3 linked regions of the Homo sapiens genome follow. The protein of the gene in region 3 purifies or fractionates together with the protein of the main gene of each other region. This does not show direct contact. Each region holds a gene or a part of one and is shown on either strand. Other genes may lie near its edges.

The links.
Region 1: the proteins of ZNF264 (region 3) and ZYG11A purify together in Homo sapiens (affinity purification with mass spectrometry; 2 studies listed by BioGRID and IntAct, with this or other methods). This does not show direct contact.
Region 2: the proteins of ZNF264 (region 3) and SORL1 purify together in Homo sapiens (affinity purification with mass spectrometry; 2 studies listed by BioGRID and IntAct, with this or other methods). This does not show direct contact.

Annotation. Positions count from the first base shown.
Region 1 is NC_000001.11:52,837,811-52,845,777, reverse strand, and holds the start of ZYG11A (protein zyg-11 homolog A), read right to left. Parts: upstream 3,019-7,967; 5' UTR 2,895-3,018; coding exon 2,805-2,894; intron 1-2,804. UniProt on the Homo sapiens protein: Probably acts as a target recruitment subunit in an E3 ubiquitin ligase complex ZYGA-CUL2-elongin BC.
Region 2 is NC_000011.10:121,602,309-121,609,331, reverse strand, and holds part of SORL1 (sortilin-related receptor preproprotein), read right to left. Parts: intron 5,140-7,023; coding exon 5,008-5,139; intron 4,220-5,007; coding exon 4,093-4,219; intron 3,931-4,092; coding exon 3,761-3,930; intron 2,488-3,760; coding exon 2,375-2,487; intron 2,147-2,374; coding exon 2,042-2,146; intron 1,229-2,041; coding exon 1,156-1,228; intron 1-1,155. UniProt on the Homo sapiens protein: Sorting receptor that directs several proteins to their correct location within the cell. Along with AP-1 complex, involved Golgi apparatus - endosome sorting.
Region 3 is NC_000019.10:57,201,496-57,208,518, reverse strand, and holds part of ZNF264 (zinc finger protein 264), read right to left. Parts: intron 3,123-7,023; coding exon 3,027-3,122; intron 1-3,026. UniProt on the Homo sapiens protein: May be involved in transcriptional regulation.

The sequences.
Region 1 (7,967 bases), on a different chromosome or scaffold from region 3:
TATGATCACAGACTGCACTCAAACCTGGGCAACAGAGTGAGACTCTCTCCTCCCTGCAAAAATCAATTTAAAAAATACATTTTTAATTAAAAAAATTAAAATGTTTACTTTCCTGTCCTCTGTAAAAAAAAAAAAAAAAAAATTCAAAAATAAAGGCTGGGTGCAGTGGTTCACGCCTGTAATCCCAGCACTTTGGGTGGTCAAGATGGGCAGGTCGCTTGAGGCCAGGAGTTCAGGACCAGCCTGGGCAACATGGTGAAACCCCGCCTCTACAAAAATACCTGTCTCTACAAAAATACAAAAATTAGCCAGGAAATGGTGGCACACACTTGTAGTCCCAGCTACTCAGGAGGCTGAGGCGAGAGAATCGCTTGAACCCGGGAGGCGGAGGTTGCAGTGAGTCAAGATTGTACCACTGTACTCCAGCCTGAGTGACAGAGCAAGGCTCCGTCTCAAAAAAAAAAAAAAAAGCACAGACCATTAGGCTACATACAAATGCAAGATTGCTGTTTACAAGAGACACAATTTAAAACATACAGTTGTTAAACACTAGACACAAGGAAACTGGAGTGACTACACTGTCAGAAAAAATGAGGCTTCTGGACAAGAATATTGCTAGAGATCAAGATGGACATTTCTTAATGATAAAAGGGCCAATTCATCAAGCAGAATTAACATTCCTAAATGCATACGAACTTACTAATAGCTTCAAAATTCATGAAGCAAAAAATTGAAAAGATATGGGAGGCCAAGGCAAGAGGATTGCTTGAGCCGGAGTTCAAAGACCAGCCTGGACAATAGGGAAACCACCGTCTTAATTAAAAATAAAAAATTAAAAGGATAAAAAGAAAATAATATGACTGTGTAGAAAATCTTTAAAAATTTACAAAAAAATAAAGAAAACTAAGTGACTTTGGCCAGGCTGTAGGATACAAGATCAATATACAAAAATCAATTTTATGTATTCTTATATATACACAAGGTAATATAAAGTTTTAAAAAATATTTGCTGGCCGGGCACGGTGGCTCATGCCTGTAATCCCAGCACTTTGGGAGACTCCGTCTCAAAAAAAAAAAGTATTTACAATAGTATCAAGAACAGGAACAAATTTAACAAAATGTGAAAAGACTTTTATATTAAAAACTACAAAACATTGCTAAGAGAAGATTAAAATGACATAAATGGAAATAATTGTATGTATGTTTCATAGGGAAAAAAGTATTCATGCAATATTTGTGTAATTAAAATAATTAATTAAAAATAAATAAAATCCTTAACAAAGAAAATGAGATATACCCAGAACTAGACAGAGAAAATGGGTGTGAGTACTTTTGTAAAGAAATCTTGTTTCGATTCCAAGCAGGAAAAAATGTGCTTGAGACGATGCTAGCACACACGTAAAAAATCCAAGTTTTCCATTAATTACAAATCCACAAATTATATAACTTTTCTAAATGAGTTCAAAAGATTACAGGCTAGATCACTGCAGGGCACAAAGTCTTCCAACAAGGCGTTAATATGTAAAGCACAACCTTAATCAGAACATTTCCTTCTCTCCATAAATTTTGGGTCGAGCCTTCACCACTCAATCCCTCGAGTTCCCCAAGGGTGGCCCTTGGCGGGTTTTTTCCAAAGTGGGGCCAGAGGTCTGAACACCTGAGGTGAAATTCAAGTTCACGAGCAAGTCAACTAAATTTCAGAGCTCCCAACTTCCCTACATCGGTAAAATGGAGCCTAGCAAAGCCTACAAAAGACTAGGGGTTACCAGACTGCTTTAGAAAGGCGACACTTGGCCGGGCACGGTGGCTGACGCCTGTAATCCCAGCACTCTGGGAGGCCGAGGCGGGTAGATCACGAGGTCTGGAGTTCGAAACCATCCTGGCCAACATGGTGAAACCCCGTCTCTACTAAAAATACAAAAAATGAGTCGGGCATGGTGGCACGCGCCTGTAGTCCCACCTACTCGGGAGGCTGAGGCAGAAGAATCGCTTGAACCCCGGAGGCGGAGGTTGCAGTGGGCCCAGATCGCGCCACTGCACTCCAGCCTGGTGACAGAGCGAGACTCCGTCTCAAAAAAAAAAAAAAAAAGAAAGAAAGAAAAGAAAGGCGACACTTAACACACAGCAGGCGCTAAACACACATTCTTTGGGTTTGCATTTTGTCCAGAGCTAAGAGTAACAGGCATTCGGCAAAGGCTGGGGACGGGACGGGGACGGGGGCGGACGCGCGGAACTGAAAGAATCTCAGACTTCGGGTTCCAGTTCCCCCAGCCGGACTAAGCTACTCGCCCGGCCCCGGGCCCAAAGGCCTCAGGTGGTAACGGCCAAAGGGTCACCGCCTCCGCGGGGCGCTGCGTCCACAACACGGGTGGGGAAACGGTCAAGGTTTGCGGCGTTTGGGTTCATGACTGCAAAAACACCGTCCACTACGGGCCAAGCCGAGTGCCATGCCCTGCACCTACGTCTAAGCTCACAGCAGCCCGCACTGGGGCGAGGAATCCTGAGGAGGCTCGCCCCGGTCTCTGGGACTGGGCTCTCGCCGCGCTGCCTCAGGGCGCAAGTTCCACGCGCTTCGCCGGGCGCAGAAAAGCACCCCCCGCTCCGCGGCGCCCAGGCCGCCTCCCCCGACAACGCACCTCCGCAGCGACGCCTGCGCCTGGAAGGGGCTCGGCATCTAGACCGCAGCCCCGCGCGGGCCACACTCCCCAGCAAGTGCCTCGGCAGCGTCCCAGGAGACTCGCCGCGCTCGCCGGAGCTGGACGTGGCGCCGAGGTCCGCGTCGCCGCCCGCACCCCGGTGCTCACCTGTACCACGCAGCAGCCCAGGGCATCCTTCTGAGCGTCAGGAGGGACGATGTTCCGGGGCGTGTGGCCCGGGTGCAAGAAATGAACCATGGCAACCCCGGCGGCGGGGCGTCAAAAAGAGAGCCGGCGTCGAGCCGGAGCCCGGATCCCGCGAGAACCAAGCGGGCGGCTGCCAGGACGCGCCCACCACGCCTGCGAGGCACACGGAGCTAGCGCCGCGCCCTGCCGGCGAGCTTTTGAAATGCCCGGCGAGGCGACGCGCACGCGGGGGCCGGCCCGCCGCAGACCCCACCCCCCGGGCGGCCTCCTAGCCCCATCCGCCCTCCGACACGCCGCTGCCGGGGCCAACCGTTCTCCTCCCGCCTCCCCAGCCTCCCCAGCCTCCCCAGACCAACCTGCCACGACCCAGCCGCTCACCCACTCCTTCCCAGCCCTGCACCTCAGGGCTTGAGAGGATATTCCCCGAGGACCGGCTGTGTAGGTTTGGGGAATACTGTATATATATATACATGTACACACACACACACACACACACACACACACACACACACACATATTCATTATTTCTATATATGTATATATTTTTTAAAGCTTTCATACATTAAAATATATATTTCAAAGACTTTGCCCCTGAAAATCTGGCAACAGCACCTCTCTAACGGTCCTCTCTGTTTCAACTCCTTAGAGTATCTGGATAAATCAAATATAAAACGAATACAAAATATTGGCAAGTATCTACCAAAAAATCTATTTAGCTTTCTTGTTACTTAAAAAGTACTCGAGAAGACCCTTATAACCTGCTCCAAGAAAGAAACCCCGAGAGACCCTTCTAACTTTCTCCAGGAAAGAAACTCCACAAGTTAGTACACATTAGCTAATTTAAGAGAAAGCAATACCTTGGAAAAGGAAAGTTCTCAAGAGCATGAGCCTTGGAGTTTGAATCCTGAATTAGAATGCCCGCTCAGCCATCTAGTGTTTGAGAACCTGGAGCAAGATTCTTGATGTCTCTGAAGCTCAACTTCCTCATCAGTAAAATAGAATGAGAATGCTTTATCTCACAGACTTAATGTAAGGATTAAATAATGTATGTAAAACACATCACAATGCTTTTTACATAGTAAGTCCTTGATAAGTGGATTGGATTCAGATGTTAAAATTATTTTTAAGTACTTTGCCTAATGCTTTTCTTTCATTTATTTATTCTTTTATTTAATCCACTTACTACAAGAAGAAAAAAAATCCTGTGCTGTAGGTATCATCCCCATTTTTCTCACAGGGAAACTGAAGAACTGACAGGTTGAATAGACAACACGTTTTTTGGCCAGCTGATGAGTGGCCAACCTGGGAGTCAAAATTGAGTTTTCTTACTGCAAGTCCAATCAATATGCTTTTTTTTTTTTTTTTTTTTTAGACGGAGTCTCGCTCTGTTGCCCAGGCTGGAGTGCAGTGACGCGATCTCAGCTCACAGCAACCTCCGCCTCCTGGGTTCAAGTGATTCTCCTGCCTCAGCCTCCCAAGCAGCTGGGACTCCAGGCGCGCGCCACCACACCCGGCTAATTTTTGTATTTTTAGTAGAGACAGCGTTTCACCATGTTGGCCAGGATGGTCTAGATCTCCTGACCTGGTGATCCGCACGCCTCGGCGTCTCAAAATGTTGGGATTACAGGCGTGAGCCACCGTGCCCCCGCCAATATGCTTTTGTTAACGGTGGAGGGTGTTCATGTTCTTGGTGTCTTGAACAAAGAATTGGACAAAACGCACAAACAAGGAAGGAATGAAGGGATTTATTGAAAATGAAAGTACACTCCACAATGCCACAATGTGGGAGTGGGCCCGAGCACTGGGGCTCAAAGACCCCGTTACAGAATTTTTGGGAGTTTAAATACCCTCTACTTGGGGTATGCCCTATGTAAATGACGAGGATGAAGGAAAGTTACAGTCATTTCCTCGGCTTTTGCCCAATGGAGAGGATATTTCCTATTACAGCTGAAGTGTGAATTTCAGCAATTTTAACTTTAATATAGAACCTGGTAAGTTATGTTCTCATAAGGTTTGACTATTTCCAGCATATCTAGAGGTGTGGCCAACTGCATATGTCCCAGGCCTTACCGAGCTAGAAAACAGGCAAGTTAAACAATTTTCAAAAGCCAAGGAAGCAGTTTATGACCTTAAAGCATTTAGCAAACCTAATATTTGAACATAATTTTGACCACATGTTTACATTTTGAAGACATTTGTATTTTATCAATAATCTTTAAACCCATCTTTATTTCCCAAAGATTACCCAAGTCACATGAACTAAATAAAAGGCATTATGTTTTTCACTTTTCTGACAAAATATTTTATTTAAGCTCTTATTATTAAACCAATTAATTTAAAACGTAACACATGAGGCCAGGCACGGTGGCTCATGCCTGTAATCCCAGCACTATGGGAGGCCGAGATGGGTGGATCGCCTGAAGTCAGGAGTTCAAGACCAGCCTGGCCAACATAGTGAAACCCAATCTCTACTAAAAATACACAAAAAAATTACCTGGGCATGGTGGCGCATCCCTGTAATCCCAGCTACTTGGGAGGCTGAGCCAGATTTGCTTGAACCCAGGAGGCAGAGGTTGCAGTAAATTTAGATTGCGCCATTGCACTCCAGCCCCGGTGACAAAGCGAGACTTTGTTGCAAAAAGTAAAAATAAGTAAATAAAAGTGGCTGGGTGCAGTGGCTCACACCGTAATCCCAACATTTTGGGAGGCCAAGGCAAGTGAATCACCTGAAGTCGGGGTTTGAGACCAGCCTGACCAACATGGAGAAACCCCGTTTCTACTAAAAACACAAAAATTAGCTGGGCATGGTGGTGTGCGCCTGTAGTCCCAGCTGCTCGGGAGGCTGAGGCAGGAGAATTCCTTGAACGCAGGAGGCGGAAGTTGCAGTGAGCCGAGATGACGCCACTGCACTCCAGCCTGGCGACAGAGTGAGACTCTCTTTCTTAAAAAATAAATAAAAATAAAAAAATAGGGCCGGGCGCGGTGGCTCACGCCTGTAATCCCAGCACTTTGGGAGGCCGAGGCGGGCGGATCACGAGGTCAGGAGATCGAGACCATCCCGGCTAAAACGGTGAAACCCCGTCTCTACTAAAAATACAAAAAATTAGCCGGGCGTAGTGGCGGGCGCCTGTAGTCCCAGCTACTTGGGAGGCTGAGGCAGGAGAATGGCGTGAACCCGGGAGGCGGAGCTTGCAGTGAGCCGAGATCCCGCCACTGCACTCCAGCCTGGGCGACAGAGTGAGACTCCGTCTCAAAAAAAAAAAAAAAAAAAAAAATAGGCTTTGCCGTTTCTGTCATGGGCACAAAGCGGTGGCCTGATTGTCAGTCTTCTCCTGGCATTTTTAAGGCCAGGAGCCAAGTGCTGCTTGTGGGCAAATAACCTACAGAGCGGTTTTGCTTTTAAAATTATTGTTATTGGCCAGGCGTGGTGGCTCACTCCTGTAATCCCGGCACTGTGGGAGGCCGAGGTGGATGGATCACTTGAGGTCAGGAGTTCGAGACCAGCCTGACCAACATGATGAAACTCTCTCTCTACTAAAAATACAAAAATTAGCCAAGCGGGGTGGCAGGCGCCTGTAATCCCAGCTACTTGGGAGGCTAAAGCAAGAGAATAACTTGAACCTGGGAGGTGGAGATTGCAGTGAGCCGAGATTGTGCCATTGCACTCCAGCTTGGGTGACAAAAAGGAAACTGTGTCTCAAAAAAAATAAATAAATAAAATCGGCTGGGCGCAGTGGCTCATGCCTGTAATCCCTGCACTTCGGGAGGCTGAGGTGGGTGGATCACCTGAGGTCAGGAGTTCAAAACCAGCCTGGCCAACATGATGAAACTCCATCTCTAGTAAAAATACAAAATTAGCCGGGCTTGGTGGCAGATGCCCGTAATCCCAGCTACTCGGGAGGCTGAGGCGGGAGAATCGTTTAAACATGGGAGGCAGAGGTTGCAGTGAGCCCAGATTGCGCCATTGCATTCCAGCCTAGGCAACAGAGCAAGACTCCATCTCAGACAAAAATAAAAAATAAATAACAATAAATTTAAAAAATGAAATTATCATTGTTATTATTTGGAGCACAGAACAGTCGATCTGGGCACCCTGTCCTGTGTCTTTTGATACTCTGTGTTTAAGAAAAAAAAATCAATTATGTGTTTTATTTCATGAATCAGTTTTGGAGGGCTTCTGGCTATCCTTTTTTCCTCATATTCTACTGAGATTATTTTTTATTTTTTTATTTTTTTTTTGAGATGGGGTCTCACTCTGTCACCCAGGCTGGAGTGCAGTGGTGCAATCTCGGCTCACTGCAAGCTCTGCCTCCCAGGTTCATGCTGTTCTCCTGCCTCAGCCTCCCAAGTAGCTGGGACTACAGGCGCCCACCACCACGCCTGGCTAACTTCTTGTATTTTTAGTAGAGACGGGGTTTCACCGTGTTAGCCAGGATGGTCTCGATCTCCTGACCTTGTGATCCGCCCGCCTCGGCCTCCCAAAGTGCTGGGATTACAGCTTGAGCCACTGCGCCCGGCCCTTCTACTGAGATTATACAAAGCAGCAAGTTGCCAGGCGCAGTGGCTCACGCCTGTAATCCCAGTCCTTAGGGCGACAGAGACAGGGGAATAGCTTGAACCCAGGAGTACGAGACCTGCCTGGGCAATATGGCGAGACCCCATTCCCACAAAAAGGAGGAAAAAAAGGACAAAAAACAAAAACAAAGCTGCATGTTTTCCACAGAGTAGGAAATCCAATGGCAAGATAGTGTGTAGGTTTGGGCTGGGTGCAGTGGCTCAAGCTTGTAATTAATCCCATTGGCAGGCCAAGGTGGGAGGAGTGCTTGAGTCCAGGATTTCGATGCCAGCCTGGGCAACATAATGAGACACCCCCCACCCCCGCCACATCCTTTTTTTTTTTCTTGAGACTGAGTCTCACTTTTGTTGCCCATGCTAGAGTGCAGTGGCATGATCTCGGCTCACTGCAGCCTCCGCCTCCTGGGTTCAAATGATTCTCCTGTCTCAGCCTCCAGAATAGCTGGGATTACAGGCATGTGCCACCACGCCCGGCTAATTTTGTATTTTTAGTAGAGACAGGGTTTCTCCATGTTGGTCAGGCTGGTCTTGAACTCCCGACCTCAGGTG
Region 2 (7,023 bases), on a different chromosome or scaffold from region 3:
CAGCTCCAAAGACCATCTGGTGGCACTACGTTTGGCCGCCTTGGGCCCTGATCTCAAAGGCTCCAGATTTTAGAGGGGACTAGATAGTGACTCTCCATGACCCAGAGCCTATTCCTCACAGGCTTAGGTTAAAGTAAAATCTTCCAGTCCTATTGCATGCCACAGTGTCCATCTGGTTTTAATACCTGGAAGTCCAGAAATGCAAGTCCCCAGTGTCAAGGCTAAGGTCAGGAAAACCACTCTGGAAAATGAGTTGTAGTCCATCTCCCAAAGTATGCCAGAACCCTTCATTTAACTGCTTCGATTCACTCAATCATCAATTATTTCCTTAGTCTCTACTAGATGCCCGTGATAGAGTAGAGAAAAACAGACCAGATCTCTGCCCTCATGAGGCACTCGTGCAAGATGCTGAGCCCGCCACCCCCGGCAAGCAGGGCGGTCCAGTAGGCCGCATGTGTCTCAGCCCAGAGAGAAGCGTGGAGCACAGTGGTTAAGAGCACAGGCTTTGGAGTCAGGCAGATCAGGTTCCAGGGCCAGCTCTGTCACTTACTGATTGTGTGGCCTGGGACAAGTGACATAACCTCATTCCAGTTCCTTATCCTTTCTTGTAGTTGTTCTGACTGTTCAATTAGATGAGCTGATGTACGCAAAGCAGTGAACACTCTAGAGTGTCCTGCCCTTGGCAAGCCATCAGTTATTACTAATATCAGCTCTAGTACAAGATAAAAAACCACCTACACACAGTTTGCCAGTGCCACTGGGAGAATAACAAGAGTCAGCATGGTGCTTTCTTTAAAACCCCGTAAGTGAACATGCACAAAATCATCTTCAGCTTTGGTGAGAAGGAAGGACTCCTTCTATTTTAGATATTTTGACTACTCACAAAGGGCTGCGCATGATGGCCTTTGGAAATCCCTTTGTATGTCTGCATTAGAAGAAATGCTCAATACTAGGAGGAAAAAGACACTCAGTCACCCCAAAAAGACTCTATCTAAAGCACTACAGAGACACCCAAAAATGTGCGTGTGTTGGGGAGAAGAAAGTTGTGTGATGTTTTTCTAAACTACGTTTCTCCATTTTCCGGTCATACTGAAAGTCATTTGAAAGGGTTTGTATAATATTTTCTCTAAATCTGCAAATGCTGGGATCATTTACCTTTTCCTTTTATGGTGGTAATGGATTTAGAATCGCTCCAGTTTCCTATTCCACGACTAGTCACCGCAGCCACCTTTTCAAATCAGAGGGTGAATTAATATGAAATAAAGGCAATACACCATACACCATACAGTAAGAATACTGAATGAGCTAAAGGGGTGAGATTTTGGCAGTGAGGCTGGAAAAATTTTATACAGAGTGATCCAGAATATTCAGAGGCCCCAGCATCTGAAATAAGAGGGCAAAAAAGCCAAGGGAAGGAGCTTGGGTAAAGGGCATTATGACAGTCCTGAGATCAGAAAATTTCTATTGATCCACAAATATCAAGGTTCTTCTAAAGGGCAGGTGTATGGGGGGGTGTGTTCATAAATACACACATATACAAAAAGGGTACTGACAAAATTATCAGTGTGAGAGTCATGAATGTGCACACTTAATGGTCTCAGCAAACATGTTGTTCACAAAATCTATCTCTTTCTGCTAAAAATACTAAAAATATATTTCATAAGAACCTCATAAAATCAGTTTAGAAAGACTACTTATCATAGCTCTGCATCATCCTGCAGCTAAAGATAAGCAGGAAAGAGCTGACTGCAAAAGTATAGGAGCTGGAAAGCTAGCAGAATACCGGAGTTAAAAGCAGGGAAAGCGGCATTCCCATAAACGCCCGGTTATCTACAGAAACTCTGATGTCAAGCTCTTTGTGGTGTCCATTTAAGAGACTGAAAGAAACTCTGAGCTCCCCCGTCCCAGGGCAAGAAGTTGGGTATTTTGCAGATTACTAATATGCATCTCACAAAGGTGAGTAGAGAGTTCTCACAAAACAGCAGCAATTTCGCTCAGTTCTAAGACTGCATGGATGGCTGGAATGGATGACGACACTCACTCTGACGGTGTATAGAGTGTTGACCAATAAGTTCTTGATTTCTGTAAAGTTACTAGCAGCCCTCTGGGAGGCCCACATCTTGGAACCACTCCTGCTGTATTCTACCTAAAGGGAGAAGAAAAAAAATGTGAGTAAAGGGAACCAAAGGTCCAGGGCATCCTAATATCTTGCAAGGAGGCTGGAGGAGAGAAAAGATGGTGAGGAGCAAAATGTTCTGACGGATGGGTCATCACCTACAAAGCTAAACCAAATCAACCCCCTCGTCATACAGAATACCCAGAAATCTCCTAGCACCCCCAACACACATACAGCCAACTCATGGAAGGTACTTACAATGTACTCACGGATGAGGCCATGGGTGTGGATGGGAGGAGCCCAGTGGCCTACAATCACACCTTCTGCTTCCCTGGGGAGTGACAGCTGGAGATTTCGAGGGGCATCTGGCACTAGAAAAAGAGTCAACTCAAGGTTAAAACCCATCTGCATAGCAGCCAACCAGAGGAATTTTCCTGGGCTTAGAACAAGGACAAGAACGACTCCACAGCCGGCATTGAGACTATCCACTAGAAAGGCTGCTAGCTTGGTCGTCACATTGAAAAGACACTTTTCCTCTTCTTCCAAAAAGCAAGGTGTGCCGTCCACACATCACATCATGGCTCAGTTGAGTGTGTGGTAAATTTGTGGCTCATAAGGGCTGCAGGATAGAATCACTTGGGCAGGCTGAGTCACCACTGACCCTGAGACTTCCATGCTGAGATCTTAATTGTCAATGACAGCACCTGCTGCCTCTGCTTCTTGTACAACAAAAACTGTACTGTGGGCATGACTACCAAAAAATAAGACTAATTTTGTAACATCACAGAATTTCTATATCCAAATGAATTTGATCATCTTCAAAGCAGGCTCCTTAATGAGTTTAGCGCTAGCATATTCAGGATACTTTAGGCAATGAAAAAAGATGACATTCAAGCAGACAGTTGCTCATGTCAACTACTTTGAAGTAGGGAGGAGGCGAGGAACTCTCTTAGACACATAAATTTGGTAAATTTCTTAAAAACTTAGCCACAAAGCCAGGTGCAGTGGCTCACACCTGTAATCCCAACATTTTGGGAGGCTGAAGTAGGTGGATTGCTTGAGCTCAGTAGCTCAAGACCAGCCTAGGTAACACGGCAAAACCCTTTCTGTACAAAAATACAAAAAGCTAGCTGAGCATGGTGGCACACACCTATAGTCTCAGCTATGCGAGAGGCTGAGGCGGGAGGACCACCTGAGCCTGGGAAGACTGAGGTGGTGAGCAGTGATTGCGCCTCCACTGCACTCCAGTGTGGGTGTCAGAGTGAGACCTTGTCTCCAAAAAGAAAAAAACTTAGCCACAAAATTGCTGATATGCCTCATATTTTAATGACGATGACCTCCTCCTAAGTACCAAGTACTAGGAAATATCTAGAGGAGGAACGTAGAGGTAGAAACTAGACAAAAAATGCAAGAGGGCAATGGTGGAGAGAATCTTAAATTAACTTAAGGTACAAGAACAGTCTCTGATGCAGTAAGAAGAACAGATGTTTGACAACTCTGGCAAGACTATAAAGCTTAGCCACCATACTTCTGTACATGTGAGGCACACATATGTTCCCACATTCCTGAGAATACTCAGAAAGACCCTCACAAACCCCGACCTGAGGTCTTACCCATGCCATAAAAATTAACTGAAACACTTACATCCCTCTGGGGTCCTCAGGGTCACAAAGTCATTGGTGTTGTGTGCCTTGCTGAGACACTGAACCTGTACTTTAACCTGATACGTGGTATCTGGTTTCAAGACTTTTAATACAGTGTTTGTCTTATTGCTGTGGGTCTCCAGAGTCTTCCATATGCTCTCTCCAACCACCCTGGCCCAAAAAAAAATAAAGATATTGTCACACTGGAGCAGCATGGGGGGCTGAGATGTCTGACTCCGTTAATAGCATGGTGCATGCCACTAGAGAGTTTACAGAACATCCTGGGGCAATGAAGACATCATTTTCATCTCCCATGACAAAGATGGGACCTACCTGTAGTAGACATTATATACACAAGAAGCAGAGGGCATTTTTTTGGGCCTCATCCAGGTCAAAGTCACATCCCCAGAGAAGTCAGCTGTCCACTGAAGATTCTGTACTTTGTACACAGTCAACTCATCTAGAGAGATAAAGGAGAAAAAGACAAACAAAGTTACATCTTGGCTGGGCGTGGTGGCTCACGCCTGTAATCCTAGCACTTTGGGAGGCCGAGGCGGGCAAATTGCCTGAGCTCAGGAGTTCGAGACTGGCCTGGGCAATGTGGCTAAACCCCGTCTCTACTAAAAATACAAAAAAAAAAAAGTTACATCTTACAAATCCTTAGATTTCAAAGGACTCCTGCTTTTAAACAGAACTACCATGATCTAGATTATCAGGAGGCCATAATCATTATCTGAAAAGAAATCTCAGAAAATGTAGTTGAAACCTCCCTATACAATCCCTCCTAGGGTCTCCTACTTTTCCGGTCGTGATATTTTCCCTCGAATTTCATCTTCCTCCTGCCTATGACAATTTAAGCCTATTTCTCCATAGAGAATGCTACAAGTCCAAGGACCATGTCATAGGGTCCATTACTAGACACTCCAGAGATAAGAACTGAGTTAATCCCACCAGCAGATTGAGACTGTGAGAGCCATGGTGTATGGGCATGAGGTGGGAAGTCCATAAAAAAAAAAAAATCCAAGACTAGCATTTCACTAACAGGGAGGAGACAGCTGCATGTTGTATCAGAGTCTGGCCAAGGCTCACCTCACTTGGGGCTCCAAAACTAGGCACAAATCTGTTTTATCCTTAGATTGAGCAACAGTTCAAAAGGGTCCTAGCTCAAGGTCTACACAGGAGGGGCCCTGGGGTAAGCGAGCCTCCCAGCCCAGCCCAGCCCAGCCCAGCCCGTGGACCGGCACTCACCACTGCAGGCCTTTTCATCGCTCTCGTCCGAGCAGTCCAGGAAGCCGTCGCAGCGCTCCGAGAGCACAATGCAGGCCTCCCCGTCCTCGCACTGGAACTCCCTGCTCATGCAAGTCAAGGTGCTGTGTGTGGCTGAAACACAGAGAGGCTTCTTAAGTCCACGGGGAGGGGCCGTATGGTACTAAAGGCTGGGCCCAAGTTTATTCCCATTTAGGCAAAGTACTAATTGGCTTCTGCTTCAAAACACACCTCTGGAATGACCAGTGGTGGAATCTATACCGGCACTAAGGTGCCATCTCATCTAACATTAACAACTGGAATCTGCATTCGGGAAGAGTGAGCACTTTGGAGTCAAACAAACTAGAGTTTAAATCCTAGATCTGCATGAGCTTGAGCAAACAGCTTAATATCACCTGAGTTCAGTTGCCCTATAAAAAATGGAAGTAACAATTCCATCACTATCATGTCTGCAAGGATCTAATGAGATCACACACCTGGAACACTGCCTGGCTCCTGGCCGGCATCAACAAACTGTAGCTATTACTCTATAGTACTATTAATTATTCTGCTACTATTATTAGTTTGCAATCTAGAAAGAGGAGCTGATTTCTGGTTTGAGTAACAGAAATAACAATGAGATGAATCCCAACAATATTAAGAGGCATGCATACTTTATGTAGTATTTAAAGTTGTTTGGCTTTTCAAAGTACTTGAACAGAAAATGAAATAATGCAAATAATGAGCACTGGTAAGTTAAGGGTTATGCAACTGTATGTCTAGGCTATTGACCAAAATGTGATGTGCTCTCCAGTTCTGAAAGTAGATTAAAACTGCACGGGAGGCTCCAAAAAGAAAGCAATGACCGTATAATTGCAAATGCTCCTGAAAAGAGAAAAGGTGAGAATGGCTGTAGACAGCAAATCTGCTATGCAGGCTGTGTACCTGGGTGGTACAAATCTGCTATGTAGCTGGTTGAGCCCAGGAACAGTAACTTGAGGCCTTCCTTATACAGATTCACACCTGCCTGCCCAGTCCTGGACAAGGAAGGGCTACATCAGAAATCCAATCCCACCAGTGATGAGGGTCTAAAATCAATCTTGCTCCTCCAAGTCAAAGACGTCCACATCCTAATCCCTGGAACCTGTAATATGTTACCTTATGTAACAAAGCAACTTTGCAGGTGTGATTAGATTAAGGACCCATAGGTAGGAGAGTTCAGCCTGGATTATCCAGGTGGGCTCTGTCTAATGACATGGGTCCTTAAAAGCAGAGACCCTTTTCTGGTTGTGGTGAGAGACAGAGAGAATACAGAAGACAGGTGAGAGACATGCAACATCACTGGCTTTGAAAATGGGGAAATTATAACAGACAAAAGGAGGCTGAACATGAGTGGCTCCATTCTGCTCCCCGCACCCTGCCCCCTGCCCATGGTGACATCTTGTAGGTTAACGGCCTCTGCCTATCTCTGCACGTAGGCCAAGCTAACTATGGAAGGAATTTTGTTTATAGTTTAATTTTAAAGCAAGGATGATAATAGTCCCTTCCTGAAACTAAGCCCTGAGGAAATAAAGAGAGTGTACACACAAGTAACAAAGTTATGTTAAAGGTGATATGAGCATTGTGACCTGAGCAAGGAAGCTTCATACGCCCCACTTCAGACCCAGGCATGTGGTCATGGGTCACCTCTTGACCTCGACCCCCTCCCTCTTCTCCTTCCTCCTAACATAAACAACCACACTTTGAGATATAGGTAGAGAAACTGGATAATGTTCCCATGAGAGCAACCAGGATGGTCAAGAGGAATGGATAAAGGATCCAGGGATATTTTCCTAGAGGTGAAAAGATACAAGGATGGGGGAGGTGGTGAGAAGACATGCAGACCACTCTGACAAGTGTTCTCCACTGATGAGTTTTCATGAGAAAGAAGAATTAAGACTTCTTTGCACGAGTCTCTAGGATGGAGGTACAGACTTCAGTTCACTACTTATTCAAAAACAATCCTGATAAAAAATTGTC
Region 3 (7,023 bases):
CAGGCTGGAGTGCAGTGGCATGAATAAGATCACTTCAGCCTCGACCTCCTGGGCTCAAGAGATCCTCCCACCTCAGCCTCCTGAATAGCTGGGACCACAGGCATGAGCCACCATGCCCAGCTAATTTTTTTAATTTTGCAGAGACGGGGTCTCACCATGTTTCCCAGGCCGGTCTCAAACTCCTGAGCTCAAGTAATCCTCCCACCTCAGCATCCCAAAGTGCTGGGATTATGGTGTGAGCCACTGTGCCAGCCAAATCTAGACAATTAAATGCCCACATAGTAAATGAATGTATCAATGAATATATAAATATATCATGAGCCACAAGCATTTGTTTTATTTTCTTCAATTGTAAGAAACTCGAGGCTGGGCATAGTGGCTTACGCCTGTAATCCCTGCACTTTGGGAGGCCGAAGCAGATGGACTGCTTGAGGCCAGGGGTTTCAGACCAGCCTGGGCAACAACAGTGAAACCCTGTCTCTACTAAAAATATGGCCAGGCGCAGTGGCTCACACCTGTAATCCCAGCACTTTGGAAGGCCAAGGCGGGTGGATCACCTGAGGTCAGGAGTTCGAGACCAGCCTGGCCAACATGGTGAAACCCCATTTTTATTAAAAATACAAAAAAAGCCGGGCGTGGTGGCATGCACCTATAATCCCAGCTATTCGGGAGGCTGAGGCAGGAGAATCGCTTGAACCTGGGAGGCGGAGGTTGCAGTAAGCCGAGATTGCGCCATTGTACTCCCGCCTGGGCAACAACAGCAAAACTCCATCTCAAAAAACAAAACAAAACAAAAAACAAACAAGCGAGCAAACAAAAAAACCCACAAAAATTAGCCGGGTGTAATGGCATGCACCTGTAATCCCAGCTACTTGGGAGGCTGAGGCACAGAGACTGCAGTGAGCCAAGATAGCACCACTGCACTCCAGCCTGGGCTACACAGAGAGACTCTAAAAAAAAAAAAAAAAAAAAAGAAAAGAAAAAAGAAGAAACAAGCATATTTTTAGGTTGAGTAGAGAATCACAAAACAAGCAGAATATAAATGAAGAAAGGATGTCCATGAAAGGAAGTGTGTTCTAGACCCTGGTATAGGAATTGGCCATGACTGGGGCAAGACCTCTTCCAGTAAGGAAAAGAGAAGTTGAGATGAACATGTAAGGGCTGCTGATCAAGCAATACAAGACAGGAGACTTTCTTTTCAACCTGAAAGCCTGCTAACACATCAGCACTCACATGCTGAGACATCTGTGCCTGGAGACAAAAACTGTCTACTTGGCTGGATGCAGGGACTCATGGAGGTGGAGGGGTTGACTTGTCTGAGGTTGGGGCCAGTCCCCTAATCTGCCTGGATGGCAGAACCATTCACAGAAACTTGGGAGGTGGCAGGAGTGAGCAAGATCATGGGTTCCTTGTTAGGCATGTTGAGTTTTGTGCTTTTGAGATTTTCAAGTGCAGATGTGGCACTGAGGAGGGGACAATCTGGAACAGACTCTGAAGGGCTGAACAGGGACTGCACAGACACTCAGGGTTGGATGAGCAGCTCAAGGAACCCACGCGGGCAGAGGCCAAGGCTCTGCAGTGGCACCAATCCACACACATGACAGATGGCCTCAGTGCCCTCAGCAGCCTGAGTGTGGGACACAGAAGGTCAAATGTCACCCTGAGGTTTTTGGAAAACAGGAGATATAGGAAGACATGGGCAAACTACTGCTTCTTAGTGTCTGATTGACACTCAGGGAATGGGTGGAAGGAGAAGGTGGGAGAGGCTGATAGGCAGAATATAAGTGGAAAGAGAAATTGGGAGAGTAAGAAAGGCCCTATTCCCTAGAGTTCAGAAGGAAATGTAACATAGCATCACTCTTTAAGGTTAATAATGACATTCGGATGAGTCACTTACTATGGCTCAGAAACTATCCAGTTTTATGCATTAATGTATCACATAACATCTTTAAACTGCCCAATGACATAAAAATGATTTCTAGGCCAGGCGCGGTGACTCACGCTTGTAATCCCAGCACTTTGGGAGGCCGAGGCGGGTGGATCACGAGGTCAGGAGATCGAGACCACGGTGAAACCCCGTCTCTACTAAAAATACAAAAAAAAAAAAATTAGCTGGGCGTGGTGGCGGGCGCCTGTAGTCCCAGCTACTCGGGAGGCTGAGGCAGGAGAATGGCGTGAACCCGGGAGGCGGAGCTTGCAGTGAGCCGAGACTGTGCCACTGCACTCCAGCCTGGGTGACAGAGCGAGACTCCGTCTCAAAAAAAAAAAGATTTCTAATAACACTTTTCAGGAACAGACTCAATGTAGTGGACTGAGAGTAGGTGCTCACCAAACCTTCTGCTCTTCTCCTTGGACAAGCAGCTCAGCCACATTTCCCAGTCCCATGGACCCAAGCCAAATGCCTAGTTCCTGTGGGTGGAATGTGAGGGGAGTTGGTATTTCTGGAAGTGGGTTTAACTTCCCTTATTCCCTCAATTCTCTGCCAGCTCGAGGACGTTAGGATAATCTTAATGCAACAGGCTGATGACAGAAGGAACCTGGGTCCTGAATAACTGTGTCGTACAGAGCTCCTCGCTGACCCACACAGTCCCTGGTATGAGTGGGAAAGAGTTTTCATATGTGAACCACTGAGATTTTAGAATCTGTCTGATACAGCAGCTACTGTTAACTTAGCTGAAGTTATATACAAAGACAGGAGATCCTGCAACTTCATCAGGGCCACACAGCAGGTGACTGGCAAGCCACATTTCAGGCCCACACAGTTGGAACCCCTGAACACATCTTAGTTCTTAAATCTCACTTCTTCCCAGGCATGGTGACACTGTGATGGGGCTAGGAGGACAGAGAAAACACAGGTCAAAGGGCTCCATGGCTCTCAAATGGAACATTCTAGTGTGATAGAGTTATATAAGAGTTATATAGAGAGAGGCCACAATGAGAAGCTTCCCAAGAGATTCCAGGGCCAGTGGTCTCCATCCAGTCTTAAGCCAGAAGGGACTCCAACCTGCCCAGATCTTGGCTCCTACCTGGACAGGTGTCTTGGGAGAGGTCTTCCTTCCTGGTCCATGGCTCCTGCCCATGCTCTAGGTGGCAGATCAGCTCAGCTTTGGGAACAGGACACCCTGTTTATGGAGAAAGCAAGTGGACACATGGATGTGGGTGAAAAGAAATAAAGACCTTCAATCTAGTTTGGGACTTCAGGATGGAGACCAGACCTTGGAGTGAAGCTGCTCCTGTGCATGGGAATGAAAAGCTGGCATGTGACCTGGAAACCAAGGTTTCCATAATTACATAAATGCATTATGTAATTCCAAAAGTGAATACTGATAGAGTATCTTAGAGAAAAACTGATGTATTTAAATATTAAATATTGACTCTTTTCATTCCAAACAAGGTATGTGATTTCATTGATCTAAGTCTTATTTTTTTTACATCCTAAGCAATGTTTTATAATGCTCTTCCTCTAGACTAAAGAAAAAATGAGGATTCCAGCTGAGGATTTTCTCACAGCATCCCCAGGAAGTCCACATCGTGATCAACACCATTTTATTGACAAAGAAACCCAGGATCAGGAAGTAAAGTGATTTGCTGAAGAGCACAGAACTGGTGAATGGCTGAGTCAGTAAGGCCCAGGTCCTGCCATCTCTGCTGTCGGTGCTGTTTAACCACAAAGCTCCACAACGCTACCCAGAAAGTCCCGGGTCCAGGTATGCCAACGACAGTGATCTTGATGAGGATGACAATAACAGTACTGATGGCAACAGGATTGCAATGGCTCCCTGCACACAGCGTGGTCTCCCAGGTGCTGTTTTGAGCCCTTTTCACGTAATAACTTTATTAGTCTGTTCTCACGCTGCTAATAAAGACATATCCGAGACTGGGTAATTTATAAAGAGAAAGAGGTTTAAGGGACTCAGTTTCACATGGCTAGGGAGGCCTCACAATCATGACACAAGGCGGAGAAAGGCACATCTTACATGGCAGCAGGCAAGAGGGCATGCGTAGGGGAACCCCCCTTTATAAAACCATCGGATCTCATGAGACTTATGTGCTATCACGACAACACCATGGGAAAAACCCGTCCCCATGATTCAATTACCTCCCACGACACATGGGGATTATTACAATTCAAGGTGAGATATGGGTGGGGACACAGAGCCAAACCCTATCAATAACCCTTTACCCCAGTAACAACCCTGGGATGCAGATGTGGTAAATCCTCATCTCACCAATGAGAACACTGAGGAACAGACAAGGTCAGTCATTTGACCAAGGCCACACAGTTTTTTTTTTTTTTTTTTGAGACGGAGTCTCGCTCTGTCGCCCAGGCTGGAGTGCAGTGGCGTGTGAACTCGGCTCACTGCAAGCTCCGCCTCCCGGGTTCACGCCATTCTCCTGCCTCAGCCCGGGTTCACACCATTCTCCTGCCTCAGCCTCCCGAGGAGCTGGGACTACAGGCGCCTGCCACCACACCTGGCTAATTTTTTTGGATTTTCAGTAGAGACAGGGTTTCACTGTGTTAGCCAGGATGGTCTCGATCTCCTGACCTCATGATCTGCTCACCTCGGCCTCCCAAAGTGCTGGGATTACAGGCGTAAGCAACCGCGCCTGGCCATGGCCACACAGTTTTTAAAGAGCAGAGCTGGGGCTGGACACCAGGGTTCGGGCTCCCCTTCCAAACACCACACTAAGGAGGAAATTACTAGCACCACAGAGTGGGTGGTGGGTAGTGATGACGATGCAGAGATGTGAGCTGGAGGTCATCCTCAGGGACCAGCAGCCAGGGGGAGGGGCAGGTTCAGTGATTCCAGACCTCTGCATTTCATGAACCATTAAAAATTTAAAAAACTGAACGTTCTACTGTGATAGAGTTAAATAAGGACATTTACAGAAACATCAAATAGTATCTACTCTCACCAACATTTCATAAAAAGAGGACTTCTACTTTAAAAAACAAAAAACAACAACAAGAACAACAAAAAACCCTCAAAGGACAGCTTCATAGATGAAGGTTTATCTTCTAAACCGAGTAAGTTTAGGTTCATGTCAGATGAAAATACAGTAGTCATATTTTCTTGACGTTGCTCAGAACATCTTGAAGCCTTTTCAGACTTTGGGAGAGACTGCTCCTCTCAGGGACAGGTAATTTCTAGGATAATAAACTCCCCTGGGAACAAGCACATGCCTTTCATGTGCAATCCACCTAACCCCAAACCATACCCCCAACCACTTCTTTAACAAACTCTCACATACCAAGCCAGTATTTCCCCTGCCCTAAATCAACCCAGGGCCAAGTGCCAGACAACTAGAGATAGTCCCTATGCCCCAAACCTCACTGAAATTACTCAAACTAGCCAGCTCTAAACTGTTTACCATGCCCTGTCTTGCTTTTCCAGAAGAAACCCAATACGCAGGGAAAACTCTCTCTAATCATGTTTTTTCTCTACTCTCACACCATGACAATACAGAACAAGACTTCTATGACCAAATGTGTGGGGGGTTTTCCCCAAACTCCAAGCAGCAGACACCAGTGGGGGGTGTCCTCTAATTCTGTTCCCATACTATCCACGCAGGGATAGCTTCGGATCCCACAGGTTGAGGGCTGAGTCCACAAGACTGCCCCACCCTGCACTCCAGTCACAAGTCCAGGCCTCCAAAATGTCTGACTAATGGGCTTTGAGTTGGGGTTCCCGCGACCCCCTCTTTGGGTTCAACTAATTTGCTGGAGCAGCTCACGGAACTCAAGGAAACACTCATGTTTACCAGTGTATTATAAAGAATATTGCAAAGGATACAGATGAAGAGACTCCTAGGGCAAGGTGTGGCGGAAGGGGCACAGAGCTTCCATGCCCTTCCTGGGGGGACCACCTGGAAGCTCACTCAACTGTGACCTCTTGGAGTCTTTATGGAAGCTTCAAAACATCAACATTCCTTTCCCAGGGTATAGGGTTGGACCCACTCATGAGACCCACAGTCAGAAAGGTGGAGGAACGTTAGAGCGAAAGGAGGGCAGGAGGTCAGAGGCCTGACCCTGAGGCCTAACATACCCAGCATTTTAACAAAAGGGCTATAGGGGTTATGAATCAGGAACGGTGGACAAAAACCAGTATGTATCAGAATACCACACCCAGTTAAAGGCTTTCTCCTCCCCTGTGCTTCCAGCTGTATCCCCATGAGGCCCAGCATATGCCCTCTTCTTTCACGAATTGTAAATAATGAATTCTTCTTTCAATGTTATTAACCTCTCTGTGTCATCACTAAGTCACTGCTATAAATTAAAATCCCATGGGTACAAATTTGCTTTTTTTTGAGACAGGGTCTCACTCTGTCGCCCAGGCTGGAGTGCAGTGGTGTGATCATGGCTCACTGCAGCCTCTACCTCCCAGGCTCAGGCAATCTTCCCTATCTCAGCCTTAGGAGTAGCTGGGACTACAGGCATGTGCCACCACGCCCAGATAATTTTTTTGATTTTTTTTGTAGAGGCTGGGTCTCACTTTATTGCTCAGGCTGGTCTCAAACTCCTGGGCTCAAGCAACCCTCTTGCCTCCCATACTGCTGGGACTACAGGCATGAGCTACCACACTTGGCCCATAGATACAAATTAATACAACTGGTGCACCCAGCAGGCTGACTCTGCGCTCATGGGAAGGCTGAAGATCAGCTCACTAAGGGATTGTACCACACAGAAAGTTCTGCCCGGGGAAGGCTGCGAGATGCTGGCAGCCTTGTGCTTCAGCTGCGTCTGGCATTTGCTGCCATGGGTTTCTGGCCTAAAGTGCTGTAGGAATCCTAAAGGAGTGCTCCTCAGATCCTTCCAGTGTTTAAAGATGCCACAGTCTAGATACGCAAGGGCAGTAATTCCCCAGCTGGCACCGTTCTGGGACAGACTGATCTCCTTAGTCTACTTTTCCAACATAAACACACCTAGTTTCTGGGTTGGTTTACGGGGTAATATACAAGGCTGAGGCTCCTCACAAAAGGTAGTGAGTAGAGACTTCCTCTGATGGATTGTGTTGGGATACA